Linked DNA regions of Homo sapiens: regions 1 and 2 are each linked to region 3. Evidence: fine-mapped expression QTL. A gene starts in region 3. Each other region holds a variant in brackets. All regions are shown on one strand. Distances are from middle to middle. Region 1 holds the start of GFAP (glial fibrillary acidic protein). Region 2 holds the start of LINC01180 (long intergenic non-protein coding RNA 1180). Region 3 holds the start of ADAM11 (ADAM metallopeptidase domain 11).

What was found. PIP is the estimated chance that this variant, and not a neighbour inherited with it, causes the effect.
Region 1: its variant is fine-mapped to the expression of ADAM11 in esophagus muscle (GTEx, PIP 0.97).
Region 2: its variant is fine-mapped to the expression of ADAM11 in skin (TwinsUK, PIP 0.95).

What each region holds. Positions count from the first base shown.
Region 1 is chr17:44,910,596-44,918,771 of GRCh38, reverse strand. It overlaps GFAP (glial fibrillary acidic protein), which reads left to right and starts at 3,272. Exons shown (of 9, transcript NM_002055.5): 1 at 3,272-3,746; 2 at 4,684-4,744; 3 at 4,949-5,044; 4 at 5,342-5,503; 5 at 6,975-7,100; 6 at 7,316-7,536; 7 at 8,114-8,157. The coding sequence starts at 3,286. LOC105371793 (a long non-coding RNA gene) reads right to left here and starts at 53. Exons shown (of 2, transcript XR_934781.3): 1 at 1-53. RefSeq lists a silencer at 7,197-7,266 and an enhancer at 7,477-7,586. The variant A/G (reference allele first, on the strand shown) is at 4,091.
Region 2 is chr17:44,647,945-44,656,120 of GRCh38, reverse strand. LINC01180 (long intergenic non-protein coding RNA 1180) reads left to right here and starts at 5,772. Exons shown (of 3, transcript NR_110661.1): 1 at 5,772-7,353. The variant A/T (reference allele first, on the strand shown) is at 4,208.
Region 3 is chr17:44,753,993-44,762,168 of GRCh38, reverse strand. It overlaps ADAM11 (ADAM metallopeptidase domain 11), which reads right to left and starts at 3,181. Exons shown (of 27, transcript NM_002390.6): 1 at 2,909-3,181; 2 at 2,272-2,447. The coding sequence starts at 2,969. RefSeq lists an enhancer at 2,989-3,540.

The sequences.
Region 1 (8,176 bases), 160 kb before region 3:
TCATGCCTGTAATCCCAGCACTTTGGGAGGAAGAGGTGGGAGGGTCACTTGAGCCCAACAGTTCGAGACCAGCCTGGGCAACATGGCGAAACCTTGTCTCTAGTAAAATACAAAAATGAGCTGGGCATGGTGGTGTATCTCTGTGGTCCCAGCTACTAGAGAGGCTGAGGTGGGTGGATCGCTTGAGCCAGGGAGATTGAGGCTGTAGTGAGCTGTGATAGCACCACTTCACTCTAGCCTGGGCAACAGAGCAAGACCCTGTCTCAAAAAACAAAAACAAGATAGTTAAGGGTTGAGTGTGAGGAAAGGTCTGAGGGTTGAGAAGGGGTGGAGGATGCACCTGGGCCTATGACAGGGGTCCACGGAGGTGGCTGATGGCAAAAGCTGGGGGACTCCAACTGCTGATGCTGAAACAAGCTTGTGTCTCACATACACAGGGACAGTTCACTGAGCTTCAATGACAGGCACCTCCTGCTCATCACATCTTTTCTCTCTAGGACAGCTTTGCCCTTATTTTAACTAGACTTCCCTTGAACCAAAAGGGAAGGCTACATGCTGTGACTTGCTGGGCAGCCTGGAAAGGCGGGCCACTCCTAGCCACAGAGATGAGACAGAGTTCAGACAAGAGCTTATCCCCAGTCTTCCTTTTCTATTTTGTTTATTTTATTTTATTTTTTTATTTATTGAGACAGAGTCTCTGTCACCCAGGCTGGGGTGCAGTGATGCGACATTGGCTTACTGCAGTCTCCACCTCCTGGGCTCAGGTGATCCTCCCACCTCAGCCTCCCGAATAGCTGGGATCACAGTAGTGCACCACCATACCTGGCTAATTTTTTTGTATTTTTTGTACAGACAAAATTTCACCACATTGCCCAGGCTGGTCTCGAACTCCTGGACTCAAGCGATCCGCCCACCTCAGCCTCCCAAAGTGCTCGGATTACAGGCATGAGCCACTATGCCCAGCCTTGCTCTTCCTTTAAAGCCTCCTGTCCTTCCCCAGGTCCCCAGTTCATAGCAGGATCAAAGGTCACTGGGCGCTCACCCCGTCTTCAAGATGCTCTTTCCTATGTCACTGCTTACGCCCAGGTCAGATGTGACTAGAGCCTAAGGAGCTCCCACCTCCCTCTCTGTGCTGGGACTCACAGAGGGAGACCTCAGGAGGCAGTCTGTCCATCACATGTCCAAATGCAGAGCATACCCTGGGCTGGGCGCAGTGGCGCACAACTGTAATTCCAGCACTTTGGGAGGCTGATGTGGAAGGATCACTTGAGCCCAGAAGTTCTAGACCAGCCTGGGCAACATGGCAAGACCCTATCTCTACAAAAAAAGTTAAAAAATCAGCCACGTGTGGTGACACACACCTGTAGTCCCAGCTATTCAGGAGGCTGAGGTGAGGGGATCACTTAAGGCTGGGAGGTTGAGGCTGCAGTGAGTCGTGGTTGCGCCACTGCACTCCAGCCTGGGCAACAGTGAGACCCTGTCTCAAAAGACAAAAAAAAAAAAAAAAAAAAAAAGAACATATCCTGGTGTGGAGTAGGGGACGCTGCTCTGACAGAGGCTCGGGGGCCTGAGCTGGCTCTGTGAGCTGGGGAGGAGGCAGACAGCCAGGCCTTGTCTGCAAGCAGACCTGGCAGCATTGGGCTGGCCGCCCCCCAGGGCCTCCTCTTCATGCCCAGTGAATGACTCACCTTGGCACAGACACAATGTTCGGGGTGGGCACAGTGCCTGCTTCCCGCCGCACCCCAGCCCCCCTCAAATGCCTTCCGAGAAGCCCATTGAGCAGGGGGCTTGCATTGCACCCCAGCCTGACAGCCTGGCATCTTGGGATAAAAGCAGCACAGCCCCCTAGGGGCTGCCCTTGCTGTGTGGCGCCACCGGCGGTGGAGAACAAGGCTCTATTCAGCCTGTGCCCAGGAAAGGGGATCAGGGGATGCCCAGGCATGGACAGTGGGTGGCAGGGGGGGAGAGGAGGGCTGTCTGCTTCCCAGAAGTCCAAGGACACAAATGGGTGAGGGGACTGGGCAGGGTTCTGACCCTGTGGGACCAGAGTGGAGGGCGTAGATGGACCTGAAGTCTCCAGGGACAACAGGGCCCAGGTCTCAGGCTCCTAGTTGGGCCCAGTGGCTCCAGCGTTTCCAAACCCATCCATCCCCAGAGGTTCTTCCCATCTCTCCAGGCTGATGTGTGGGAACTCGAGGAAATAAATCTCCAGTGGGAGACGGAGGGGTGGCCAGGGAAACGGGGCGCTGCAGGAATAAAGACGAGCCAGCACAGCCAGCTCATGTGTAACGGCTTTGTGGAGCTGTCAAGGCCTGGTCTCTGGGAGAGAGGCACAGGGAGGCCAGACAAGGAAGGGGTGACCTGGAGGGACAGATCCAGGGGCTAAAGTCCTGATAAGGCAAGAGAGTGCCGGCCCCCTCTTGCCCTATCAGGACCTCCACTGCCACATAGAGGCCATGATTGACCCTTAGACAAAGGGCTGGTGTCCAATCCCAGCCCCCAGCCCCAGAACTCCAGGGAATGAATGGGCAGAGAGCAGGAATGTGGGACATCTGTGTTCAAGGGAAGGACTCCAGGAGTCTGCTGGGAATGAGGCCTAGTAGGAAATGAGGTGGCCCTTGAGGGTACAGAACAGGTTCATTCTTCGCCAAATTCCCAGCACCTTGCAGGCACTTACAGCTGAGTGAGATAATGCCTGGGTTATGAAATCAAAAAGTTGGAAAGCAGGTCAGAGGTCATCTGGTACAGCCCTTCCTTCCCTTTTTTTTTTTTTTTTTTGTGAGACAAGGTCTCTCTCTGTTGCCCAGGCTGGAGTGGCGCAAACACAGCTCACTGCAGCCTCAACCTACTGGGCTCAAGCAATCCTCCAGCCTCAGCCTCCCAAAGTGCTGGGATTACAAGCATGAGCCACCCCACTCAGCCCTTTCCTTCCTTTTTAATTGATGCATAATAATTGTAAGTATTCATCATGGTCCAACCAACCCTTTCTTGACCCACCTTCCTAGAGAGAGGGTCCTCTTGCTTCAGCGGTCAGGGCCCCAGACCCATGGTCTGGCTCCAGGTACCACCTGCCTCATGCAGGAGTTGGCGTGCCCAGGAAGCTCTGCCTCTGGGCACAGTGACCTCAGTGGGGTGAGGGGAGCTCTCCCCATAGCTGGGCTGCGGCCCAACCCCACCCCCTCAGGCTATGCCAGGGGGTGTTGCCAGGGGCACCCGGGCATCGCCAGTCTAGCCCACTCCTTCATAAAGCCCTCGCATCCCAGGAGCGAGCAGAGCCAGAGCAGGATGGAGAGGAGACGCATCACCTCCGCTGCTCGCCGCTCCTACGTCTCCTCAGGGGAGATGATGGTGGGGGGCCTGGCTCCTGGCCGCCGTCTGGGTCCTGGCACCCGCCTCTCCCTGGCTCGAATGCCCCCTCCACTCCCGACCCGGGTGGATTTCTCCCTGGCTGGGGCACTCAATGCTGGCTTCAAGGAGACCCGGGCCAGTGAGCGGGCAGAGATGATGGAGCTCAATGACCGCTTTGCCAGCTACATCGAGAAGGTTCGCTTCCTGGAACAGCAAAACAAGGCGCTGGCTGCTGAGCTGAACCAGCTGCGGGCCAAGGAGCCCACCAAGCTGGCAGACGTCTACCAGGCTGAGCTGCGAGAGCTGCGGCTGCGGCTCGATCAACTCACCGCCAACAGCGCCCGGCTGGAGGTTGAGAGGGACAATCTGGCACAGGACCTGGCCACTGTGAGGCAGAAGTGAGGAGGGGATGGGGAAGGGGGGCCTTGTGAGCAGAAGGGGCTGAATCCCCAAGAAGGAGTGCCCGAGAAGTCTCAGGGAGGGGCCGAACCTCCCTGCTCCCTGGGCCTCCCTACCTCTTGATGGGGCACTATCCTTGCCCCCCAACATGATGGGAGGGACCAGAAACAGGCCCAGGGCCCCGGGGATCTGATGCCCGCATGCCTTCTGCCAGGAGTCCAGGGTCCCCTCAGCACCTCCCTACTGGGGAAAGCAGTGCAGGAGCAGCGGGGCCCCTGTGTTTCATTCATGGCTGGGCTTTGTGACTGTGGGCAGCGAGCTCACCTATTCTGAGCCTGTGTCC[A/G]TATAAAGGAGGAGTTGGAAGCGGAGAAGGTTGATGTCCATGAGGGAGATTGGATTCTGGGGTGAAGAAAGTGAGGGAAAGAGCAGGCAGGTCTGGGCGCAAAGCACAGGTGACTGCCTGCCACCAGCTTGTGACCCCCATCAAGTTACTTTGACTTGCACAGCTGTGAAGCGGTGGTCATAATAAAATTCATTTCAAAAGGTGGTTACCTGGGATCAGAGGAATCCCCAGGGGCATGGCGCTTCACTGAGCTGACAGGACATGCATGTGTGCCTTCAAGTGCAGGAGGACATGTGCGTGTGTGTGTGTGTGTGTGCAACAGTGAGTGTATGCTTGTGGATGCGCCTGTGTGAGCAGAAGCAGGTGCACCAACCCTGATAAGGCACCTTAGTAATGAGTTAAGGCAAAAGCCCACATCTGCTCATCCTCCAGACAAGTCCTCTGTCTAAGGCCCCCCAACCCTTAATCCTCCTGCTGCTCTACTGGTCCTGGGTGGGGGTGGTCTCTGTGACAGCTGCCTCAAGGGAGACTGAGGCAGGTATTCAAGTGTCCTCAGAAGAGCCTGGACCCAGGAATGTGTCCCCCCACTCCAGGCTCCAGGATGAAACCAACCTGAGGCTGGAAGCCGAGAACAACCTGGCTGCCTATAGACAGGTCAGGGAGGTGGAGGGGAGGGGCAGGGGAGGGAGGAAAGGATTGATGGCCACCCACCCAAACACAGCCCCCAAGCTCAGCCCGCCAGAGCAATGTGCTGCTCCCCACTGCCCCAGAAGGAGGGGTAAGGCAAGGCTGAGGAATGGGGAGAAGGAGCCTGGGGCCCCAGTGGCCCTCTACTCCTCACCCCTCCTGCCACTCCAGGAAGCAGATGAAGCCACCCTGGCCCGTCTGGATCTGGAGAGGAAGATTGAGTCGCTGGAGGAGGAGATCCGGTTCTTGAGGAAGATCCACGAGGAGGTGAGGCCAGGGCAGAGGGAGGAAAGCTCAACACAGAGATTGCAACTGAGAGAGGGAGAGACAGAGACAGAGAAGCTGAGACTGAGAGAGACACTCAGAGAGAGGAGAGAAACAGAGATTGGCAGGTAGAGACAGGAAATGAAAGACAAACAGAAAGACACTAAGGGAGACGGAAAGAGACAAGAGAGCATTCGAACTCCTGGCCGAGGGGCAGGCAGAAGAGGACACAATGGCGTGGGGAACCCCAGCTGTGGCCTGTACCCTGAGCCCTGGTACCGCTTCTCTCACCCTGGTCAGGAGGTTCGGGAACTCCAGGAGCAGCTGGCCCGACAGCAGGTCCATGTGGAGCTTGACGTGGCCAAGCCAGACCTCACCGCAGCCCTGAAAGAGATCCGCACGCAGTATGAGGCAATGGCGTCCAGCAACATGCATGAAGCCGAAGAGTGGTACCGCTCCAAGGTAGCCCTGCCTGTGGGCCAGCCTGCCTCCTCCAGGCAGCCCTTCTTGCTCTGTACAAGAGAATGGGGGAAGGAGGGTGGAGGAAGCTGGGAGAATATCCTCTCCAGGTGACTGACTTTCACCAGAGAAGTGAGATGGCTTGCCCAGGGTCACACAGGCACTATTGCTTTCAAAAGTACCCATTATTATTACTGCTACTATTGCTATTATTAGTAGTAGCTGATACTGTTCTGTTCTAAGCCCTGTGCTTTTCATGGATTACCTTACTATGAAGTAGGTGCTGTTCTTTGACAGATGAGAGAGCCGAAGTCCAGAGAGGTTAACTAATTTGCTCAAAGTCACACAGCTCCTAAGTGGTAGAGTTGGATTTCCAACTCTAGCACATCTCACTTGGGAGCCTGCATTCCATGCCTCTGCCAGTCTGTTTTGGGTTACTGAGCCTCTACCATATGCCAGGCACCCCCCAGGACACAGAGAGGTGTCTGACCTGGAAGGTGTGATATTGACGTGCACCCAAACATAGTGCCCGTAGAGAACACCACAGCTCAGAGCTTATATGTAGTGTGGGAGCCAGGAAAGACACTGTAGAGGGGGCATTTGGGCTAGGCAGGACAGGCACGCTGTGGACAGGAAGAGAAGAAGGGAGGGCCATTCCTAGTGGAGGACAGAGCCTGGAGGCAGAAAAGCACAGAGAGGCAGGGCCCCAAGATGCTAGCCTAGCCAGGGCACCTAGCTGAGGAGTGTGAGTGGCAGAAGCCACTGGTGTCTGAGCAGGGTGAGGGCCCGATGGGGCTGGGAGGACCTCCCTGCAGGCAGGGGAGAAAGGGCTATTAGAACCCAGGGTGAGGCCAGGCGAGGTGGCTCACACCTGTAATCCCAGCACTTTGGGAGGCCGAGGCATGCGGATCACCTGAGGTCAGCAGTTCAAGACTAGCCTGGTCAACATGGTGAAACCCCGTCTCTACTAAAAATACAAAATCAGCCGGGTGTAGTGGCGCATGCCTGTAATCCCAGCTACTCAGGTGGCTGGGGCAGGAGAATTGCTTGAACCTGGGAGGCAGAGGTTGCAGTGACCCGGGATTGTGCCACTGACTTCCAACCTGGGCGACAAGAGCAAGACTCTGTCTCAAAATAAAACAAAAAAAACAAAAAAACAAAAACACACAAAACACCCAGGCCTCCGCTCGCCTAAGACGACAGCGTTCAGTCCCGCAGATGCAGCTGTCAGTGTGGAAGGTTCTGGATTCTGTGGCACTGTTCATTCATTCGCTTGCTGACCAGGTGTTGTGCTAGGTGCTGAGGTCTGGCAGCCCGCTACCCTGCCCGCATCCATGGGTCACAGTTGTTGGGAAAAGTCCCAGCCAGGGCCAACGTCCTGGGGTTAACTGGGGTGCTGCTCACCTCCCTGATTTCCCAGAGCCCGTGCCTGCCCATGGGCCCACACAGCCCCCCATATGTGTCCCCCACCTAGTTTGCAGACCTGACAGACGCTGCTGCCCGCAACGCGGAGCTGCTCCGCCAGGCCAAGCACGAAGCCAACGACTACCGGCGCCAGTTGCAGTCCTTGACCTGCGACCTGGAGTCTCTGCGCGGCACGGTGAGCGCGGCCAGGGCAGGACGGGGACGGGCGGAGCAGGGACGGCCACCCCAGGAGATGCCAGGGGAGAAGGGCCAGGGACGAGGACCTGGGTCGAGGGCGGGGCCTGAACGTTACCCCCGGGCTAGAGGCGGGGCCTGGGGCCGGGGGCCGGGCCTCGAAACCTCCCCAAGTCGGGTCGGGGCTCCGCGGGACCGGCCGGCTCCATCCCACAGAACGAGTCCCTGGAGAGGCAGATGCGCGAGCAGGAGGAGCGGCACGTGCGGGAGGCGGCCAGTTATCAGGAGGCGCTGGCGCGGCTGGAGGAAGAGGGGCAGAGCCTCAAGGACGAGATGGCCCGCCACTTGCAGGAGTACCAGGACCTGCTCAATGTCAAGCTGGCCCTGGACATCGAGATCGCCACCTACAGGAAGCTGCTAGAGGGCGAGGAGAACCGGTGAGCCCTCATCACAGCCCCTGGGGAAGTCTCCCTGCTGCCTCACGGTAGAGCTCATCTTGCTCCCTTCAGGGACTGAGTCTTTTTCAGCCTTGTGTGCAGATCCCTTCCCACCTCAATGCCCAGCACAGTGCCTGCCTCACACATAGCAGGCAGTCACTAGATGTTTGATGACTGAATGGATGGATGGATTCAACCAATATTGATTAGGCCTCAAGGCCAAGGACTTGGGTCACCCTCCAAACTAAGAGGCATACTCCCCATCTTCCCAGCCAAGATTGGACTCCTCACCTCACCCATCTCTTCTGCCTCCTTGGAACTTTCTTCACCACTTTCCCCTCCCTTTTCCATCTTCCTTCAGATAGACATGCGCCCCTCCCAGATAACACTCAAGCCCCTTGCAGACGTTTGGAACTCCAGATAGCACGTTGGCTGCTGGGGAAAAAGCTAGGAGATGGAGTTAGACTTTCCTGGCAAGGAAAAGGGCGTTCAAGTTGTCATGATGGCCCCGCACCAAGACCCAGCCTAGGGGTGTCCCAGGCAGCCCGGGCAGCCCTCTCCCTCTGCTTTCTTTCAGGATCACCATTCCCGTGCAGACCTTCTCCAACCTGCAGATTCGAGGTCAGTACAGCAGGGCCTC
Region 2 (8,176 bases), 110 kb after region 3:
CGTGGAAGGTTGAAAGAGCTAAAGAGCGCAGCCCTACCGGGTGGGAGAGGTGTTGGAGGCACTTGGAAGATTTGAGAAGTCGCTCAGCAACTGGCTTATCCTCCAAAACCTAGCTGTTGCGCACATTTCATTTGTCCGACATTTCATATTTGTTCCTTAGTCCCTCCCGTAGCTTCAGAATCCGTTGGAGCTGCCCAGAGACTGATATATCTTGTACCGGTTTGGGGAGGGCGAGGAGCAACTTGTGGATTGGGTGTTGCTGGGAGACCCCTTTTTGAGGGAGAGCTGCCCTGTGTCCTAAGCCCGGGCTTTCAGTCCGGGTTAAGGCATTTAAGTGTTAATGTGACTTTTGAACAAAGTTCGCTGTGACCTTTTTGTTCGTTTTTGTTTGTCTGTGTAAAACAGGGTCTTGCTCTGTCGCCCAGGCTGGAGTGCAGTGGCGCTATCATAGCTCGTTGCAGCCTTGAACTCCCGGGTTCAAGCGACCCTCCCGCCTCAGCCTCCCGAGTAGCTGGGGCTGCAGGCACGCGGCGCCACCACTCCTGGCTAATTTTTTAATTTTTTTGTAAAGCTGAAGGGCGGGGGGGTTGGGTCTCCTTATGTTGCCCAGGCTGGTCTCAAACTCCTGGTCTCGAGCGATCCTCCCGCCTCAGCCTCCCGAGTAGTTGGGGCTACAGGCGCGTGCCACCACTCCCAGCTAATTTTTTTTTTTTTTTTTTTTTTGGTGAGATGGAGTCTCACTGTCGCCAGGCTAGAGTGCGGTGGCGCAAAGGCTCACTGCAACCTCCGCCTCCCGGGTTCAAGCGATTCTCCCGCCTCAGCCTCCCGAGTAGCTAGGACTACAGGCCCACGCCACCACGCCCCGCTAATTTTTGTATTTTTAGTAGAGACGGGAATTTCACCATGTTGTCCAGGATGGTCTCGATCTCTTGACCTCGTGATCCGCCCGCCTCGGCCTCCCAAAATTCTGGGATTACAGGCGTGAGCCACGGCGCCTGGCCCTAGCTAATTTTTTAATTTTTTTGTAGAGCTGGGGTTGGAGGTGGGGATGGGGGTAGGGGGTTGGATCTCCTTATGTTGCTCAGGCTGGTCTTGAACTGAACTCTTGGCCTGAAGTGATCCTCCGCCTCGGCCTCCCAAAGTGTGGGATTACAGGTGAGAGCTTACATAAACAAGCCATTCCAGGCACCCAACAAACCATTCACATAGCAGTCAGATTGGGGATGTGATGGTCTCAGAGAAATGCTAGTTTTTGTCCCTAGACACTGCTAAAAAATCAGATAGTTGAAATATAAAAGAAGTAAACACAGTAAGCACCTTTAGGCTGTTTTTATATTTAAAATCAAAACTTGAGAAATGAGCACTTAAGTGGAAGATACTGTTTTAACTCAGACACGAATGGAAGTAGGAGGATGAGTTTTATTGACCCATATTGTCCTGATAGTTACTTCAGGTCTCTACTCAGCTTTGAGTTCAGAAAGCTCACCAAGGCTGGGCGCAGTGGCTTGTGCCTGTAATCCCAGCACTTTGGGAGGCCGAGGCAGGAGGATTGCTTGAGCCCAGGAGTTGCCCAGCCAGGGCAACATAAGGAGACTTCGTCTCTACAAAAAAATTAACAATTAGTTGGGTGTGGTGGTGTGTGCCTGTAGTCCCAGGTACCTGCACTTGGGAGGCTGAGATGGGAGGATCGCCTGAGCTGGAGAGTTGGAGGATGCAGTGAGCCATAATCACTCCATCACACTCCAGCCTGGGCAACAGAGCAAGACCCTGTTTCAAAAAAAAAAAAAAAAAAAAAGGAAGAAAGAAAAGAAAAAAAGCTGCTGGACTCACACCTGTAATCCCAGCATTTAGGGAAGCAAAGGCAGGAGGATAGATTGAGCCCAGGAGTTTGAGATTTGCCTGGGGAATATAGTGCTCCACAAAAAGGAAAAACAAAATGTGCATGCACACACACACACACACACACAAACACACACACACGCACACACACTTAAAAAAAGCTGACCAGGTGGTGTGGCTCTAACAGTTACATTTCTCTGCCTCAGCCTTAAAGTTGCTGGTGTAGGGCTCATTGCATTGAGGACTACTGGCTTTTTCCCCCTCTCCTATACTCCCTAGAAGCATTTTGAAAAGCTATGAATCCCCTTATGTATTTTTATAGTAAAATATACATAAGATTTGTCGTTTTTAAGTGTTTGGTTAAGTGGCATTAAGCACATTCATAATGTTGTGTAACCATGACCGCTCTACAGTTTCAGAACTTCATTAATCACAAACAGAAACTCTGCAGCATCCCATAAATAATTATTCCCCATGCCCCCTTCTCCCAGTTCTGGCAACCACCATTCTACTTTCTATCTCTATGAATTTGACTACTCTAGGTACCATATATAAGTGGAATCATACAATATTTATCCTTTTGTGCCTGGCTTATTTTACTAAGGTAAAATAAACCTTGTCATCAAGGTTCCTTCATGTTATAGCATATACCTGAATGTCATTCCTTTTTATGGCTGACTAAGGTTCCATTGTATGGATATACCACATTTTGTTCAAGCATTCATCTGTTTATGGACACATGGGTGGTTTCCACCTTTTTTTTTTTTTTTTGAGTCAGAGTCTTGCTCTGTGCTGCAGGCTGGAGTGCAGGCGCAATCTTGGCTCACTGCAACCTCCCCCTTATCGGAGGAATCGTTCAGATGATTCTCCTGCCTCAGCTTCCCCAGGAGCTGGGATTACAGGCATGTGCCACCAAACCTGGCTAATTTTTTTTTTTTTTTGAGACAGAGTCTTGCTCTGTCACCCAGGTTGGAGTGCAGTGGCATGATCTCAGCTCACTGCAACCTCTGCCTCCTGGGTTCAAGTGATTCTCCTGTCTCAGCCTCCTGAGTAGCTGGGATTACAGGCATGAATCACCATGCCTGGCTGATTTTTGTATTTTTAGTAGAGACAGGGTTTTGCCATGTTGGACAGGCTGGCCTCGAACTCCTGACCTCTGGTGATCCGCCTGCCTCAGCCTCCCACAGTGCTGGGATTACAGGTTTGAGCCACCGTGCCCCGCCTAATTTTTGTATTTTTAATAGAAATGGGATCTCACCATGTTGGCCAGGGTGTTCTCGACCTCTTGACCTCAAGTGATCTGCCTGCCTTGACCTCTCAAAGTGATTACAGGCATGAGTCACCGCGCTTGGCTCTCAACTTTTCACTATTGTGCGTAGTACTGCTAGAAACATTGGTGTACAAGTATTTGATTAATTTTTTTTCCAATTATTTTGGGTATATACCTAAGAGTGGTATTGTTGGGACATATGGTAATTGTATTCGATGTCTTGAGTAATTCCAAAATGTTTTACACTGTGGCTGCACCATTTTACATTCTCACCAACAATGCATGAGAGTTCCCATTTCTCCACATCCTCACCAACACTTGTTATTTTCTTTTTCTTTTTCTTTCTTTCTTTCTTTTTTTTTTTTTGAGACAGAGTCTCCCTCTGTCACCCAGCCTGGAGTAGAGTGGCACGATCTTGGTTCATTGTAACCTCTGCCTCCCAGGTTCAAGGGATTTTCATGCCTCAGCCTCCCGAGTAGCTGGGATTACAGGCACGCACAACCACGCCTGGCTAAATTTTTGTATTTTTAGTAGAGACAGGGTTTTTCCATGTTACCCAGGCTGGTCTCGAACTCCTGAGCTCAGGCAATCCGCCTGCCTCGGCCTCCCAAAGTGCTAGGATTACAGGCGTGAGCCACTGCACCCAGCCTATTTTTTCTTTTTAAAATTTCTCTCTCTATAGATATACATATAGATAGATATAAATAGATATAGAGAGATCTATCTCTGTATATCTATCTATATATATCTATCTCTATATATAGACAGGGAGATATATCTATAGATCTATATATATCTATATATCCCTGTATAGATCTATATATAGTAATCTATGGTAATCTGAAATTACTATATATATGTATTACTGTATGTGTGTGTATATATATATATATGTATACACACACACACAGAGATTGAGAGAGAGAGATGGGATCTTGCTCTGCTGCCCAGCGTAGACTGGTAGACCACAGTGGCATGATCATAGCTTACTGAATACTCAAACTCCTGGCTTCAAGTGATCCTCCCCACTCAGCCTCCCAAAGTGCTGGGATTACAGGCACCACACCCAGTCTCTTTTTCTTTCTTTAAAAAAAAAAA[A/T]AAATATATATATATGTATATATATACATACATATATATATATATATATATATATTTTTTTTTTTTTTTTTGTAAAAACAGGGTCTTTCTGTGTTGCCCAGGCTGGTCTTGAACTTCTGGCCTCAAGCAATCCTCCCAAAGTGCTGGAATTACAGGTGTGAGACATTGCACTCAGCCTTTTTGTTTTGTTTTCTTTCTTCTTCTTCTTTTTCTTCTTCTTTTTTTTTTTTAAAAAGCCAGTTGGATACAGTGGCATGCTCCTGTAGTCCCAGCTAGTCCGGAGCCTGTAGTGGGAGGATCCCTTAAGCCCAGGAGTTTGAGGCTGCAGTGCGCTGTGATCATGACACTGCACTCCATGCTGGCGTGCATGAGAGATGAGAGACCCCATCTCTCAAAAAAAATTTTTTTTTAAAAAAGATGGCTATCCTAGAGGATGTGAATTGGTATCTCATTGTGGTTTTGACTTACATTTCCCTAGTGACTAATGATGTTGACCATCTTTTCATGTGCTTATTGGTATATCTTCTTTGGAGAAATACCTATTTAAGTTCTTGGCTCATTTTTTGAAGTCATACTGTCTTGTCGTGTATTAATATGGTTTGTCGTAGAAATAAAAATTACTGGCAAATTTAACACTCTATTGAATTCGAGTGAATACATTAACAAAGAAAACATTTTGGTTATGAACAGAGTAAGTATATAATATGTAGTTAGTTCTTTCAGTTCTTTCATTCTCTTTTGGAAGATCTCATTTTCAACGTGTGTGTTGAGGGTTGGGTGGGGTTAGTTTCCCAGTCTTACTCAGACATATATACAAACCTCAGATTAAAGTGAGAAAGAGTTAGGAATACTCAAATAATTGTTTTATGTCTTCTCTGCCTTGATCTGAACTTAAAATTTTGTGGAGGGAGAGACTATTGACCCTCTTTCTCCATTTATTGTTTCTATACAGGGACAATGACGAAAGACATGTTTATACAATAAGATTAATTACATTTCAGTAACTTTGATCCAATTCAGAATGATGCTGCCCTCAAGTAAAAAAAACTTTTTCTTTTTCTTTTCTTTTCTTTTTTTTTTTTTGGAGTCTCACTCTGTTGCCCAGGCTGGAGTGCAATGGTACGATCTCAGCTCACTGCAACTTCCGTCTCCCAGATTCAAGCAATTCTCGTGCCTCAGGCTTCTGAGTAGCTGGGATTACAGGCACACACCACCAGGCCCAGCTAATTTTTCTATTTTTAGTAGAGACGGGGTTTCACCATGTTGGCCAGGCTGGTCTTGAACTCCTGACCTTGTGATCCGCCTGCCTCGGCTTCCCAAGTAAAAAACTTTTTTTTCCACTTACTATTTTGGGGATATTTAAGTGAATCTGAAATTACTATTGGATTTTTTTTTTCTCTTGAAACAGAGTTTTGCTCTTGTTGCCCAGGCTGGAGTGCAATGGTGCAATCTCGGCTCGCAGCAACCTCCACCTCCCAGGTTCAAGTGATTCTCCTACCTCAGCCTCCCAAGTAGCTGGGATTACAGGCACCCGCCACCACGCCCAGCTAATTTTTGTATTTTTACGGAGACAGGGTTTCACCATGTTGGCCATGCTGTTTTCACCATGTTGGCCGGGCTGTTTTCGAACTCCTGACCTCAGATGATCCATCTGCCTCCCAAAATGCTGGGATTACAGACGTGAGCCACCTCACCCGGCCCTACTATTGGATTTTTAAAGACAGATATTTAAGAACATTCTTTGCTAGAACTGAGGACAATTTAAACTTATTCCATTCAAGAAAACTTAGTGCAGAATGCAGACTTTCCCTTTCAAGTATATGTAAAAGTTAACTTCTTTTTTTTTCCACCTCTGGAAGACAATGTACAATGTAGTACTCTTCAGATACACTAATGAGACCCTTTTTATACTTTAACAGGGACGTAAACATTTCCTTTTGTAACAAAAATAAATTATGGGTTTCATTTTAAAAAGCCTATCCCCAAGAAATGTTTTGAGTGTTAATCTAAGTAAGATTTCATTATTCTCATAAGTAAAACTTTGAGTTCAAATAAAGTTTTGATTTTTTTTTTGATAATTGAAGGTATATGTAGGGGCTCAACCTAAATGCCAGGGAATTAACCCTCCATAGGAAGTAATCATATAATTCTAAGTCAGTATATAATTGAATTGATGTAGGATTTTTAAGTATTCTCTCAACTATATTAAATGAATTGTTTTTCCAGTTTTCTAGTGGTCCAAAAACTTAAATAGGCTGCAAATCTGCTGTGATTCAAACCGTGCAATTCCTCACAGGCATCTCTGACTTGAGGGACTAAGTTCCTGTAATTATGTGTCCTGAAATTAACTGGGTTGCCAGATAGGTTTTCTCAACCTTTAATAGCTTGTTGGAAGGCTTACAGAATGCTCTTTATTAGAAATATTTGGAACTACTTCCCCCCTTTTGGATACTCAAATTAGTGTTTTTCTAGTTCTCTGGCATAATTTGTATAGCTGCTTCCTTTGTAGAAAGTAAGCTTATGTTCTGCTTTTCCCTTTCTGGTTGGCTGGAGTGCTAGGTCACTCTTATCTGTGCTCTAGGAAACTTTTAGATTTCTACTTAGCTTAGGATGACACCCTGAAAGATTTAGGGTCTGCTTCTGTTTGGGTTAGGGGGTAGACACTTGAATTCATTGGTCTTTTTTTTGGCTCACTGCAGCCTTGACCTCCAGCACTCAAGGGATCCTCCCACTTCAGCCTCTAGAGTAGCTGCAACTATAGGTGCCTGCCACTATGCTCACTAATTTTGTGTATTTATTGTAGAGACAAGGTCTTACTGTATTCCTAGGCTGGTCTCGGACTCCTGGACTCAAGGGATCTTCCTTCTTCAGCCTCCCAAAGTGCTAGGGTAACAGGCATGAGCCACCATGCCCGGCCAAATAGATTGGTTTTTATCAAAGATGCTGTAATATTAATATGCATCTTCCTGCTATCCCTTCAAAAGTGAGAATTAATGTTGTTTTCTTTTCTTTTCTTTTTTTGAGATGGAGTCTCTCTCTGTCACCCAGGCTGGAGTGCAGTGGCGCAATCTTAGCCCACCGCAACCTCTGCCTCCCGGGTTCAAGCAATTCTCCTGCCTCAGCCTTCCGAGTAGCTGGGATTACAGGTATGCACCACCACACTCAGCTAATTTTGTATTTTTAGTCGAGATGGGGTTTCTCCATGTTGGTCAAGCTGGTCTTGAACTTCCGACCTCAGGTGATCCGCCTGCCTCGGCCTCCCAAAGTTCTGGGATTACAGGTGTGAGCCACTGTGCCCAGCCCAAAAAAGACTTTATTTTTTAGAGCAGTTTCAGGTTCATGGCAAAATTGAGAGGGAAGTACAAAGAGTTCTCATATACAGATTTGCTGCCCCTTCACAGATGCAGCCTCCCCCAATATCAGCATCCTGCACTAGAATGGTACATATGTTATCATCAATGAACCTACATTGACATATCATTATCAATCAAAGTCCATAGTTTACTTTAGGATCCACTCTTGGTGGTGTACTTTCTATGGGTCTAGAACAGTATATAGTGACATGTATCCACCATTTTGGTATCATACAGAATAGTTTCACTACCCTAAAAATCCTCTATGCTCCGCCTCTTCATTTCTCCCCCCCCTCAACCCCTGGCAACCACTGATTTTTTTTTTTCTATCTCCATAGTTTTGCCTTTTACAGAATGTCATAGAATTGGAATCATACCATGTGTAGACTTTTCAGATTGGCTTCTTTTACTTAGTAATATGCATTTAGGGTTCCTCTATGTATTTTCATGGCTTGATAGCTCATTTCTTTTTAGCACTGAATAATATTTCATTGGATGTACCACAGTTTATCTATTCACCTACTGAAGGACATCTTTCAGTTTTGGCAATTATGACTAAAACTGCTATAAACACCAGTGTGCAAGTTTTTGTGTGGACATAGTTTACAACTCATTT
Region 3 (8,176 bases):
CTCAGTTTGCTCATCTGTAAAATGGGGCTGACAAAAGTTACAAGCTGCCAGGCGCAGTGGCTCACGCTTGTAATCCCAGCACTTTGGGAGGCCGAGGTGGGCAGATCACCTGAGGTCGGAAGTTCGAGACCAGCCTGAGCAACATGGAGAAACCCCATCTCTACTAAAAATACAAAAAATTAGCCAGGCATGGTGGCGCACGTCTGTAATCCCAGCTACTCGGGAGGCTGAGGCAGTAGAATTGCTTGAACCCGGGAGGTGGAGGTTAGGGTGAGCAGAGATCACGCCATTGCACTCCAGCCTGGGCAACAAGAGCAAAACTCCATCACACACACACATAAACACACAAAAGTTACAAGCCTTACAGAGTTGTGAGAAATAAGTGATGTAGAGTGCATACAAAGCTTGGCAGAGTGGCCCATAGAAGTCCACAGCTTTGGTACCTCAGGGGAAACTGAGGCACAGATAAGAGAGGGCCCCAAACAAGTCCCTTGAGGAGGTCGCCATGAGGGCCCTAGGAAGTCTCAGTCTCAGAGAGACCCCAAAATTGGAGATAATCACTGCCCGGCAGATCCATGGAACTCCATTCCCTCCCCGCAGGCTCTCAGACACCCCTCAGAAGTATCTGGAATCGGTGGATCACATACACACCTCACATGCACTCACTCACCTGCAGAACAACACAGAGACCCCCAACCCAAGCAGTTCAACTGCACCCATCCTGACCTTCCCACGCAGCTGCAGACACCACCACAGCCCAGAACCTCCTACCCTTTGCCACCTCTGTCTCTGTTCGGAAAGGGTCAGGCTGAAGGAGCAACCTGCCCAGTTGGAATACCTGACTTTTCATCCCTACCTGACTCCAGGCTTTTCCTCAACTCTGTCCCCTTTCCCTGCGGTGACATCCCTCCATGACTCAATCTGCACATCCCTTAAAGCATAAGCCAGAGTCCCAGCAGTCGGGCAGACCATCAGTTCCCCCACAGTGTAACCACGGGGTGCACAGTTCACAGGTAGGGAGTGACACCAGGCAAGACAGCCAGACTCAGCGGCCAGGACACCCCATCCCCGGCCCTAGGACTGCACACCTCCCAGGGAGCCTGGGCAGTTGCTGAAGGCAGCTTCCACCCCCCACCCCACCCCCAGTGACTGCGGGCCTTGGACCATTAGCCCCCTCCCCCTGCCCCTCTGCACGGCCCTGAGTGATGGTCCATCTATTATGCATGCTCCCTTCCTGCTCCATCCATTTCATCAGTATTCTCCACCCCTGCACCACCCCGCATCCCCCTCTGCTCCCCTCCCTTAAGGGCTTTTAACCAAGTACATTAGGCAGGGCCAGATGCCAGTCTGACAGATGTCCGTAATGTTAGCCTCCGTTTCCCTCCTTCCTCCCTCTGCCCAGCCCAATTTACCTCCCACCACTCCCCGCTGCCAAAACTTCCCAGGCCTCAGTTGTACCCCTCTTCTGGGTCTCCCCCCTATACCTCCTGTTTGTGCCGGGCCTTTGCCAGCCAACCTGCCCTCTGCTGCCCTGTTGGCCTGGCTCACTTTCAGCTCCAGCTCTTGGAGCGCTGGGGTGTGCTGAATGAATATTCCATCTGGGTGATTATTATTCACATGATATTAATTAATTATTAATTGCAATTAATCTCCTTCATGCCTAACCTTCCTCTGGGAGGCAGGAGGGGCCTGGCAGCTGAAAGGGACAGTGGGCAGGCAGGTAGAGCTGGCTTGGGGCCTCAAGTTATTTTCCAAGGCCCCACCTTCAGCCAGGACAGGAAGAACAACAAGCCTATCTGGGCACTGTGTGGAAACTGAGGCAGGAGCAAGCACTAAGTTGTTCCAAGAAAGCCCACTAAGGTGGCTGTGGTGAGAACCTGAGAGCCCTAATCCCTGACTGGAATCTGGGCTGCCTCTCCCTGCCCCCAACTTGCCCCATCCAAGCCCTGTTTTGAACAGAACAACTAGCTTTGGCCAGAGCAGAGCAGGGGGCCATTGGAAGGCTGACCCAAAGCAGACCTGAGACCTAGGCATTAGTGGTCCCTGTACACTGAGGGCAGGGGACCCTACAATAATGGAAGGGGGCCCTGGGGCTGGGCAGGCCTGGTGCTCCCCACCAGTGGGCTCCAGCACCCACCGGATAGCCCACTGTACAGAAGGGGACCCTGCGGGGCAGCTGCTGAGGGGGACTCCAACCCTGGTTACCCCGTGGGCTTCCTGGGGCTCTGAGGCCTGCTTCAGCCCCTGGCCTCACCACCCAGCCCCACTCACCGGGCCCCCTGGTGGCTCCTGGCGGACCCTTGTGTCCAGCTGCTGCTTTCGGACCTCTCCCCCGGAGCTCTCCCTAACCAGACGGCTGGGTTCCGTGACCTCAGGGGCTCCTGGGCCTCCCAGCTGGGGTAAGCCCCCCCATCGCAGAGCTCCAGCAGGACCTTGGGTCCCAAGACCTGGGGAAACAAGGCCATGGCTGCAGGCAGCTGCCCACCCTGGGGCAGAAGACTTGGGAATGGGGTGGGCATGCCTCATCCCCCACTCTGGTGTGGCCCCTGGAGCCCTAGGGCGATCCGGGTGGGAGGATCTGGCTGCCCTGCAGAGGCAAGAGCCCGCGGGGAGGGGGCCAGGAGCTTCACTCCCGCCCAACCGTCACGACTGCCCCCCCATCCGCCCAAACCCGCAGAGACCTGCAGAGCTGGCCGGTCGGCGGCAGGGGCAGGGACGCGGTGGGCCCGGCCAGCTGGGGACAGGTGGGTGGACGCACCTTCCCTCCTCTCCCGCTCCCCTACCCTCCCGCGCTCCGGACCGGCTGTCACCCCGAGCACTGCAGGAAAAGGTGGCTGCAGCAGCAAGCGCCGCACATCCCGGGGCGGGGGCAGGGAGGGGGCGCCGGGGCCGGGCGGGGGTCACTCACCGGGCGTGGGGAGCAGCGACAGCAGCAGAGCCGCGAACGCCCAGCGCCGCAGCAGCCTCATGGCTCGCTCATTCCTCCCGGTCCGGGGGCTGCGGCTGCCAGCGGCGCGGGGAGGGCGGGAGCAGGGACGGGGGTGGGGAGGCGCCAGCTGCGGAGCCGGGGCGGGGGCGCGGGGCCGGGCGGGGGTCGCGGAGAGGTGGGGGCGGCAGGGACGGCGCCGGGGCTCAGCGCGCTCCGGCCGCGGCCATCCCGGCGGGGCGGCGGGGCCGGGTTAAGAGCTGAGCAGCGAGCACGTGAGCCCAGGGCCCGCCCTCCGCTCTCCCGCCGCCCCCCGGCCCCCCCAGCCCCGCAGGGCCCGGGCCGCCGCCGCGGCAGGACAAAAGAGGCGCCGCCCCGGGGTCCCTCCTCGCACCTCGAAGTCTCCTCGGCAGGTGCGGGGCGGTGGCGCTCCGCGTACTTATCCCGCGGCCTCTCCTCGGCCACCTCTGCCTGAGCATCTCCGAGGACTCGTAGATTTGTAGGGGAGGGAAGCAGGGGACGGGGTACCCCCGGGGTCGACCCGGCGACTGCCTGTCTGGGGCCCGGGGGCAGGGGCGTGGCTGCGGCGCCCACGTTCGCCCCTCTGTCGTGGTACCCCAGAGAGGCTGCCCCAGCCCCAGCTTGGAGCGCCCCGCTTGACCCCAGGCTGTGGAAGCTGGGGTTGGGGTGGGCAAAGGCTCTTGGCGAACGCCGGGCTCTACGCCTCTGGGATTTCTTGCACCTTCGCTACGGGTCGTGTCACTGCGGAGTCCTCTCACGCCCGCGGTACAGACCCCTTCCCATCGGCTCCTTCTCCCCGCCAAAGATGCCCCGGCCTCCAGGAGGGCTTCAGGGATCGCTGTCACTCCAACCATCAGGAAGGGCTGGCATGTCCGTCTGGGTTCCTGAGTCTCTCACAGGCGTCCTGTCCTTCCTCCTAGATAAAATATAAACTAGCCAGGTCACTTATATGCTGCTAGCATGCCCCATGGCTCCCCCTCCCTTGCTAGTCCCAATCCTTAGGAGCAGAAGACACCTCTGGAGCCCCCCAGCATTCCCTCTCTGGTCAGACTAGGCTGCCCTGTCTGCAAAATACTTGACCTCCCAACCTACATTCCCAGCTGTGCCCTCCACCCAGCTCCTGGGGATGTTGGGTCCCAATACCAGGGCTGGGACCTCAGACTTCTGCTAGGGGTGCTGAAGGCCAGATACCTGAGATGGTGTGGGGTGTGGTAGGGCATGGTGGGTGGGCCGCTGAGTCCCCACCCTGACCTTTTTGGTACCCATGCTAGGGGACCACAGGTTGCTGAAGAACAAGATTGGAGGCAGGAAACCCCTTCCTGGGTCCTCTGCTTCCGCAAGGACCCAGGGCCTCTGCTGGGGATGAGGGAACTGCCTCTAGCTTGTGACACCCCCACCCCCCGCTCTATTTTAGGCCCAGGAGAGGTGAGAAGGCGATTTCCCAGGAGGCGCTGACATCAATGTAGGGAACCAAGTGACTCCCCCCACCCCCAACCACCTGCCATGCCAGGCCCAGATGCTCAGTAAGGCTGAGCCAATTCTTCCTTCGCTCTGGAGACATCTTGAGAACCTCCTCCAAGATGTAGGCATGAGGAGGCTCCTGGGAATGAGGGCCTACTAGGTGGTATTCCTGGAAACTCATCATGAGCCCAGAGGGAGAGATTGTGCTCCCCATTTTACAGATGGGGAAACTGAGGCTCTGAGAGGTTATGTGAGCTTCTCAAAGTCACACAGCTGGTGAAAGGCACATCCCATACTCCATGGCCCCACTCCTCTTAGCCACCCCTAGTCCTACTTCCATCTCTGCCCTCCATTTGGGACCAGAGGGGACTGGTATATCTGGTCCCATGCACCCTCACCACACACCCCAGACACGAAGGTGGCTGTCCTGCTCCAGCCTGCCCATGTCCCAGGGCCACATCAGCAAGTCCCGATCAGGAGTGCCCCCCAGTAGGCTGGGTGAGGTTTGTCATTTCACAGTGCGAGCCCGGGGCTGGGAGAGTCTGGGTCCTCCAACATGTTCAAGACCACAGAGCAAGCCCAATCTGTGGTCCAGGCCTCTTCACCAGAGGCATGTTCCTACCACATCGGTGGCCCTGGGACCCTAGACTTCCTGTTGGGGAGACCTGATGAGCCCTAAGAGTGACTCTCCCTGGTGGCACCCTGGGCTAGTTCCAGTGGAGACTCGGTCATATGGCTCCCTGGCCCCCATAGCCACTTATATTCCTGGGTTCCCCGGCTCCCAGCAGATCTGGCTAGAACTTACTTTTTTTTTTTTTTTTTTTTTGAGACAGAGTCTGGCTCTGTCGCCCAGGCTGGAGTGCAGTGGCACGATCTCGGCTCACTGCAAGCTCCGCCTCCCGGGTTCACGCCATTCTCCTGCCTCAGCCTCCTGAATAGTTGGGACTACAGGTGCTCGCCACCACGCCCAGCTATTTTTTTTTTTTTTTTGTATTTTTAGTAGCGACGGGGTTTCACATGTTAGCCAGCATGGTCTCGATCTCCTGGCCTCGTGATCCACCCGCCTCGGCCTCCCAAAGTGCTGAGATTACAGGCGTGAGCCACCGCACCCGGCTAGAACTTACTATTTTTTTTTTTTCTTTTGGAGAGTCTCGCTCTGTCACCCAGGCTGGAGTAAAGTGGCAAGATCGCGGCTCACTTCAACCTCCACCTCTGGGGTCAAGTGATTCTCTTGCCTCAGCCTCCCGAGCAGCTAGGACAACAGGCATGTGTCACCATACCTGGCTAATTTTTTGTATTTTTAGTAGAGATGGGATCTCACCATGTTGCCCGGGCTGTTCTCACCCTCCTAAATTCACCATGTTGTCCAGGCTGTCCTCAACCTCCTAAATTCAGGCAATCTGCCTGCCTCCCAAAGTGCTAGGATTACAGGTGTGAGCCACCATGCCTGGCCTAGAACTTTCTTTTTTTTTTTTTTTGAGATTGAGTTTCGCTCTTTTTTTTTTTTTGAGATGGAGTCTCGCTGTGTCACCCAGGCTGGAGTGCAGTGGCGCCATCTCGGCTCACTGCAAGCTCCGCCTCCCGGGTTCATGCCATTCTCCTGCCTCAGTCTCCCGAGTAGCTGGGACTACAGGTGCCCAACACCATGCCCAGCTAATTTTTTTGTGTTTTTAGTAGAGACGGGGTTTCACTGTGTTAGCCAGGATAGTCTCGATCTCCTGACCTCGTGATCCACCCGCCTCGGCCTCCCAGGGTGCTGGTGGGATTACAGGGTGAGCCACCACCCCCAGCTGGAGTTTCGCTCTTGTTGCAATGGCATGATCTCGGCTCACCGCAACCTCCACCTCCCAGGTTCAAGCAATTCTCCTGCCTCAGCCTCCCGAGTAGCTGGGATTACAGACATGTGCCACCATGCCCAGCTAATTTTGTATTTTTAGTAGAGATGTGGTTTCTCCATGTTGGTCAGGCTGGTCTCGAACTCCTGACTTCAGGTGATCCACCCACCTCGGCCTCCTAAAGTGCTGGGATTACAGGCGTGAGCCCACCGCACCCAGCCGATCTTTTTTTTTTTTTTTTTTTTTTTTTTTGAGATGGGAGTCTCACTCTGTTGCTTAGGCTGGAGTGCAGTGGCATGATCTCGGCTCACTGCAATCTCCTTCTCCTGGGTTCAAGTGACTCTCCTGCCTCAGCCTCCCAAGTAGCTGGGATTACAGGTGTGCACCACCACGCCTGGCTAATTTTTGTATTATTAGTAGAGATGGGGTTTCGCCATGTTGGTCAGGCTGTTCTCAAACTCCTGGCCTCAAGCAATCTGCCTGCTTCAGCCTCCCAAAGTGCTGGGATTGCAGGCAATAGACCTTATTTTTTAATTTTTTGAGGGTCTCGCTCTGTTGCCCAGGCTGGAGAACAGTGGCACAATCATAGCTTCCTGTAACCTTGACCTCTTGGGCTCAAGTCATCTCCTGCCTCAGCCTCCTGAGTAGCAGGGACTACAGGTGGCGTCACCAAGCTTGGCTTTTTTTTTTTTTTTTTTTTTCAGACGGAGTCTTGTTCTGTTGCCCAGGCTGGAGTGCAATGGTATGACCTCGGCTCACTGCAACCTCCTCCTCCCACCGGGTTCCAGCAATTCTCCTGCCTCAGCCTCTCAAGTAGCTGGGATTACAGGTGTGCTCCACCATGTCTGGCTAATTTTTGTATTTTTAGTAGAGATGGGGTTTCACCATGTTGGCCAGGCTGGTCTTGAACTCCTGACCTCAAGTGATCTGCCCACCTTGGCCTCCCAAAGTGCTGGGATTACAGGTGTGAGCCACCGTGCCCAGCACTTTTGTATTTTTTGTAGAGATTGGGTTTCATCATGTTGTCCTGGCTGTTCTCAACACCTGGACTCAAGAGCCATTCAAGGCCAGGCGTGGTGGCTCAAGCTTGTAATCCCAGCACTTTGGGATGCTGAGGCGGGTGGATCACGAGGTCAGGAGATCGAGACCATCCTGGCTAACACGGTGAAACCCTGTCTCAACTAAAAATACAAAAAATTAGCCAGGCGTGGTGGTGGGCGCCTGTAGTCCCAGCTACTCGGGAGGCTGAGGCAGGAGAATGGGGTGAACCTGGGAGGCAGAGCAGCCTCCCAAAGTGCTGGGATTACCAGGCATGAGGCCGATGCTTGGCTAACAAAATTTCTTTTTGTAGAGACGGGGGTCTTTTTATGTTGCCCAGGCCAGTCTCGAACTCTTGAACTCAAGTGATCCTCCAGCCTCAGCCTCCCAAAGTGCTGGGATTAGATTACATCTGTGAACCCTGGCACCCGGCCTCGGCTAGACCTCTTGCCTCTCCCTTGATCACAGTCCCCAGTCCCTGAGGTTCCACCTCCCCTGTCTCATGCTTGCCTCAGCTCTCTTAGGAGCTGTGGGATCCCCACACAGAAAGCTTGCTTCACGTTCTTTCACCCACCGTCCCTCCTGAGGTCAGGGCTGTCTGTTTTCTCATTGGTGGCCCTTCATCAGACTGGGACTTCAGAAGAGCAGGGCTTGTCCTCCTCATCAGACCTGACCCTGATAGCAAGGGCTGTTTTCTGCTTAGATCGGGGCAGGCCTGTGTCTCCCCCTCAAACATAGGGTTCCCTGGGGGGCCCCACCTCAACTTCATAGCTATGGCTGGCTCCTTCGGTCCATCCATTGAGGCTGGGGCCACTATTTCTGCTGCCCTGATGCCACTCTTGGGGTTGCTCTTGCTGAGGGAGCTGTGGGGCCCTGAGGGGTGGGTCTCTGGCCT